Homo sapiens: one gene and its partner. The protein of the gene in region 2 interacts with the protein of the main gene of each other region in a pairwise test. Each region holds a gene or a part of one and is shown on either strand. Other genes may lie near its edges.

The links.
Region 1: the proteins of PIPOX (region 2) and HMGCL come close enough for resonance energy transfer, tested with the Homo sapiens proteins (one large-scale study listed by BioGRID).

What each region holds. Positions count from the first base shown.
Region 1 is NC_000001.11:23,818,832-23,822,655, forward strand, and holds part of HMGCL (hydroxymethylglutaryl-CoA lyase, mitochondrial isoform 1 precursor), read right to left. Parts: intron 1,763-3,824; coding exon 1,679-1,762; intron 1-1,678. UniProt on the Homo sapiens protein: Mitochondrial 3-hydroxy-3-methylglutaryl-CoA lyase that catalyzes a cation-dependent cleavage of (S)-3-hydroxy-3-methylglutaryl-CoA into acetyl-CoA and acetoacetate, a key step in ketogenesis. Terminal step in leucine catabolism.
Region 2 is NC_000017.11:29,055,364-29,057,975, reverse strand, and holds the end of PIPOX (peroxisomal sarcosine oxidase), read right to left. Parts: intron 2,164-2,612; coding exon 2,088-2,163; intron 1,802-2,087; coding exon 1,671-1,801; 3' UTR 760-1,670; downstream 1-759. UniProt on the Homo sapiens protein: Metabolizes sarcosine and L-pipecolic acid.

The DNA of each region.
Region 1 (3,824 bases), on a different chromosome or scaffold from region 2:
CATCATGCCCAGCCTGTCAAATAATTTTTGAAAGCCCTCCATGTTGCAGGCATTGTGCTAGGTGCCGGGGATATAGCAGTAAGCAGAAGCAGAACAGACAGGATTCTGCCCTTCGGGAACTTACACACTATTGTTTCCAACAAGCACTCACTATTAAAGCTAGGATGGACGTGCTAAAAAAAAAAAAAAAAAAAAAAAAAAAGAGAAAAAGAAAAAAGCTTTTCTTATTGAAAAAATAATCAATATATGATTCTTTCAGAAAAACATGCCAAAAACAAAAGAAAACCACCCTTAGAATCTCCCAGTGATAACGCTATTAACACCCTGGTGTGTAACTTTCTAGATCTGTGCAGCCCAATATGTCACTAGTCACATGTGGTTATTTAAATTTAATAAAAATTGTATAAAAATAAAAATACAATTCCTTGGCCACACTAGTCACATCTCAAGTTCTCAAGGGCCACATGGGTATAGTGGCCACCACATGGAAAAGCTCAGGTCCAGAATATTTCCATCTTCACAGAAAGTGCTGGTCTAGGTCCTAGTCTAGATAAATGCTCCCATACATATATAAACTTTTTTCTTACATAAAAGTGTTAAGATTAAAAAATACATGGCCAGGCGCATTGGCTCATGCCTGTAATCCCAGCACTTTGGGAGGCTGAGGCAGGTGGATCACCTGAGGTCGGGAGTTCAAGACCAGCCCGGCCAACCTGGTGAAACCCCATCTCTACTAAAAATACAAAAATTAGCTGGGCATGGTGGCAGGGGCCTGTAATCCTAGCTATTCGGGAGGCTGAGGCAGGAGAATCACTTGAACCCGGGAGGAGGAGGTTGAGGTGAGCCGAGATTGCGCCATTGCACTCCAGCCTGGGTGACAGAGTGAGATGCCATCTCCCAAAAACACACACACACACACGCGCGCGTGCGTACGCGCACATGCACTATTTGTTTTTGTTTGGAGACAGAATCGTGCTCTGCCTCAGCCTCCTGAAGTGCTGGGATTACAGGCATGAGCCACCACCATGCCCAGTCACATGTACTATTTTATAAACTGCTTGAGTCACTTTATATATACCTATGTTATTAATGGCTTCATAATATTTCATTTTATAAAAAGTCCATAGTGTATCTGACCCAACTTTCCTCATACTAAATATTTAAGTTGTTTCCAACTGTTCTGTGCTTACCAAACAGGTTTGTAAGGAACACCCCCAAGGCTAAATCTCTACATTTGGCCTTCGTGACTTGCTTTGGATAAATCCCCTTACATGGAATTGCTGGGTCTACCCCACCCCACTGGGCTGTGGACCTGGGGACACCAAACCTGTTGCACCACCATTCAGTTTATATATATACATATATTTTTTAATAAGATAGAGTCTTGCTATATTGCCCAGACTGGTCTCAAACTCCTGGGCTCAAGCCATCCTCCCACCTCAGCCTCCCAAGTAATTAGGGATGACAGGCATGAGCCACCCATCCAGCTTGCCCCACCATTTTAGATCATTTAACTGTCACAGGTGTCTGTCCCTGTTTGGCCTCCTCTACTCTCCCCTAACTTGTGCAGAGGAATCACATCTTGCATAGCTCTGTCAACTGCCATTGCACCTATCACACGTAATACTCAAAGCAGATGCTTGAAAAAACTGTTTTTTTGGCTCATTTCCAACTTTACCTTTTCATTTTGTAGTCCATCTCGGGGACCAACTTCCACAATTTTCACCCGCTTTGGTAAAGTGCCCATAGATGAGGTGCTGACCTTTGGTTTAAAAGAGGAAACAAAAAGTATGAGGAAGAGATTGCCACAATTCCCAGGGAGACCAATATGAAAGAATGGATCTATCTTCACTAATAATGAGACAAGAAGAAATATTTCTCACCATTTAATTCACATTTGGTCTATTTTAGAATTAAGAACAAAAAGAATATTTCACTTAGTAACAGGAACAAGCAAGAGATTCATCCTTCCAGTACCGGTTCTCCCCTGAAGTCCAGACTCCTTTTCCACTGCCTACCTGACAGCTCTATTCGCATCTCTTCATATAGCAGTCCCGAAACAGAACTCTAATTTCTCCTAAAGCCCATCTGACTCCATCCTTTCCATCTCTGTCAAAGGCATCGCATGTACCCTACTGCATAAGCCAGAACTTCATTGAGCCATTTCACCTATTCACCATGGCCTATAGGACTCTGTATGCTGCTGTATGTATGTTAGAAGTAGTTTAAAAAGGCCAGGTATTGCGGGGGGCAGTGGCTCATGCCTGTAATCCCAGTACTTTGGGAGGCCGAAGCGGGCGATCACTTGAGGTCGGGAGTTTGAGACCAGCCTGACCAACATGGTGAAACCCCATCTCTACTAAAAATACACAAAAAATAGCCGGGTGTGGTGGTGCACGCCTGTAACTCCAGCTACTCAAGAGGCTGAGGCAGGAGAATTGCTTGAACCAGGGAGGTGGAAGTTGCAATGAGCCAAGATCGTGCCACTGTACTCCACCTTGGGCGACAGAGGAAGACTCCATTTCCAAAAAAAATAAAAAAAGGCCAGGCACGGTGGCTCATGCCTGTAATCCCAGCACTTTGGGAGGCCAAGGCAGGCAGATCACTTGAGGCCAGAGGTTCGAGATCAGCCTGGCCAACATGATGAAGAAACCCCGTCTCTACTAAAAATAGAAAAATTAGCCAGGTGTGGTGGAATGGACATGTAGTCCCAGCTACTCAAGAGGCTGAGGTGGGAGAATCGCTTGAGCCCAGAAGGTTGAGCCTGCAGTGAGCTATGACTGTGCCACTACACTCCAGCCTGGGCAACAGAGCGAGACCCTGTCTCAAAAAAAAAAATTAAATGACTCTATATGTCACTTGATGCTTTCCAATTAAGAAAAGAAAAGACTGTATGAGTTGCCTCCTCTGACCTCCTGGAATCATCACTCGCCCCTACTGTCCACTCCCAACCTCCACCCAACAGGTTGCTAAGCTCCCTGCCTTCTCTTCCCTCTGCCCCAGGGTTCCTCATCTGGCTTTTTTTAAAAAAACTGGCTGTTCTTACATCTCTCTCTCATCTTTCAGTTGCAGAGAGGCTTCCTCTGACCACCCTTTGCAAAGCTGCCATTCCTCCCACCCCCATTATTTTCGCTATTGCAGAGCTATAATTATTTCCTTCAAAGCACGATAAAGAATGCCTACTCAATGTCTCTTCCAGTAGAACATAAGCTCTTTGAGGGACCTTGTCTGTCTCAACTCCACTTCATCCCTAGTGTTTGGCACCGTGTTTGGTACAAAGTAGCCACTCTTTAAAGTTATTAAAATAACACATAAACCATGAAGGACACAGCTGTCCCAGAAGAGAGCAATTACTGAGTGTGGGGAGGAGTAGTCAGTCCTGGACTTTTCGGGGTATGGGCGAGATGCAGGAGGGCTCTCTTCTGTTACAGTCATAGGCTGGGTGATGACAAGCATGGGTCTAAGGGGAGGTGACACCCCCAGTAGCTGAAGACAGTTTTTACAAAATGCCCTGAGTCTCCTCTATATAAAGTCAGCTCAAAATCTTAGTCTTCCCTATCAAGTAACACAATACTTTTTTTTTCCTCTTTCCTCTACCTGTCTTGATACTGTAACTTTTCAAATCAACTTTGTTTTACAGATTTAATCTGGATAAATATACTACAACGAGGCAAAGCGGAAGGCACACTGTGTGATCCGCTAAGGATCTCAACCCCCTGAAGTCCCCCAGGAATTCCCTGCTAGGAAGCAGCTGGAACATGTACAACTCACCTGACTGGCCTTGTTTTAGCCAACAAGCTTTCTTAGAGACTAAGGCGATGAGC
Region 2 (2,612 bases):
CCCGGCCTTGGCTGGCTTTTATAACTCACTGGAGAATCAGTGCTAATACATGTGCCTAGGACCTTAAGGACTCAGGCAGTTGAAGAGCCATTTCCTCTGTGTTGTATTTCCTTTGGGGATATTTGTACTGTCATTCTCACTGCCTGCTCCTCCCCACTCTGTGACTCCCCCTAACACATCTGCCACTCCCAGTCCCAGTTTTTCTCTCTAGAGCATTTTAGCTCCTGTTCTGGGGTTGAACTGGCCCGATGTGGAGATCCTCCAGGTGGGTTTCATCTGAGTGCATCCAGACTTGCTCGAGTCCCTGTTACCACCCCTCACCCCTCCACCCACCCTGGGGTGGTTATAAGCCTGTTCCCTTCCAAAGCAATTAGTGCAAGGAGGCCAGCCAACTCGGTGCTAATGCTGTTTCATTAAGTGGGAGCAATCCTAATGATAATAAAATGGCACATTTAACATTCAAACATTGAACAGGGTTTCTAAGCGAGTGTGTCTCTCTCTTTCTTTCTGGTATAACAGCTCCATCTTCATAAGGACCTGACAATACACCTTAATGAGAGACTGGGGAGCTGAGCATCTTCACACAACCAGAGAGGGGGTGAGGAGGAGACAAAGAATCCAGAGAAAGGGGGTGCAGCGCATTGAGGGGATAAAGACTCCAAGGGTTCCTGGGTTAATGGATTCTGTGGTGCTAATTTAGACAATTAGAGCCTGGAAGAAATGAGGTCACACAGAAAAGAAAGCCCGCTACAGACTTAATGCAGGGCAGTTATTTATTTGTTCAACAAATATTTATTGTTCATCAAAGACGAGCCAGATTTTATGGGCATTTGTGATGGAGGCTGGCCTTAGCTTTAGGAGAAGGAACTCCAAGAGCAGTAGTGATCTCTGAGATCACCTTGTTCACCCTCCTCGGGGCAGATTTAGTCAAATCCATCCCAAGCTCTTCAAATATACCAGCAAAGAGGTTTTTTTTGTTTTGTTTTTTTTTTGAGACAGAGTCTCACTCTTTTTGCCCAGGCTGGAGTGCAATGGCGCAATCTCGGCTCACTGCCACCTCCACCTCCCGGGTTCAAGTGATTCTCTTGCCTCAGTCTCCCAAGTAGCTGGGATTACAGGCATGCGCCACCACACCCAGCTAATTTTGTATTTTTAGTGGAGATAGGGTTTCACCATGTTGGCCAGGCTGGTCTTGAATTCCTGGCCTCAGGTGATCCGCCTGTCTCAGCCCCCCAAAGTGCCGAGATTACAGGTGTGAGCCACCACACCCGGCCCCCAGCAAAGAGAATTTTTAACAACTGCTTTGGTCTCCAGAGCCAGTTCTTGTGCCCTCTTCTTACTGATATACCCATCTCAAACGTCCTTGCTACTCTGTGATTGTAGAATATCTGATCAACCTTCTGGGAGCGAGAAAGTAGTTGTGAATGGGGAGGTGGCCAAGAAAAGAAGGTAGACTCAATCGTCTGGTGTTTACGGGGGATTCAAGTGAGGCAGAAGAAAAAGGGAGCGGGCCAAGGAAAGAAGGTAGACTCAATCATCTGGTGTTTATGGGGGATTCAGGCGAGGCAGAAGAAAAGGATGATATCTCAGGGACACTCCCTTCATCTGAGACATCTTCTCCATCTGTGAAACTGGCTCCTGTGCACAGAAGGGAGGCTTCTGGCCAGAGGTCAAAGGTGGGCTTTGCCCAGGCTTGGGAAACGGCTGATTCGAAAAGGTGCCAAGTCATAAGATGGTGTTAATTTCATGCTTAATTCATACAGGATCTTCCCCACCACAGGGGCCAGCTTGAACCCGTGCCCTAGGAAGGGAAGAGCAGACTCTCAGGCAGCTTCACAGACAGAGGTTGAGCTCTCTGGACATCCCCTACTTACCCAGACAGGGCTGACTGTCCTCCTGGTCACATCCCAAAGCCAGAAGTGGCCTCCCACCATGAATACCCCTTTTCTGACTGCCCAGCCTCCTTATACCTACAATGTCCAGGCTTCACACCTATCTGGGCAGCTAAGAGTGTGGAAAATACCATTTCACCTGGCACTGAGGTAGGTCAGCTTTAAGGCACCCCATTCCCCCCAGCTCAGACTCACCAGAGAATCCAGCACCAATGACAATGTTGTCATACTTTGGGTGGCGATCGAGAATGAACTGCTCATCAGGGGTATTCTAGAAAGAAACAGTCACACCTTGTGTTCTTTGAGGCTCGAGGGAAGAGAAAGAACTGCAGGCTCTAACTGGAAGGGGATGGGCTGGATTTCTTTCCAGAAAGGATGGAATGAGGCACAAGGATGCTTTCCGCATGCCCGTGCCCCTCTGGGTGTGCCAGTCTTTTTCATTTGTCCGGCTGCCTTTCTTCTCGCACAGAGCTACGAACACAGTAGGTGTTCAGTTAATCTTTGTAAACTAACTTTAGCCAAGATGCCTTAGGCCGTGGTGACATCTGTCTCTTCTCTTTGTCCCTAAGGCCTGCTCAACTGGAGGAGCTTGCCAGAAAATCTTTTAGAGCTCTTCTGGGAATCAGAGTGAAGGACCGACTGCCAGGCATAACCTAGTTTCCTAATGAAGAAGAATAGGAATAATTTCGAACAGGACCCTCCCTGGTAGAGGTGAACCTA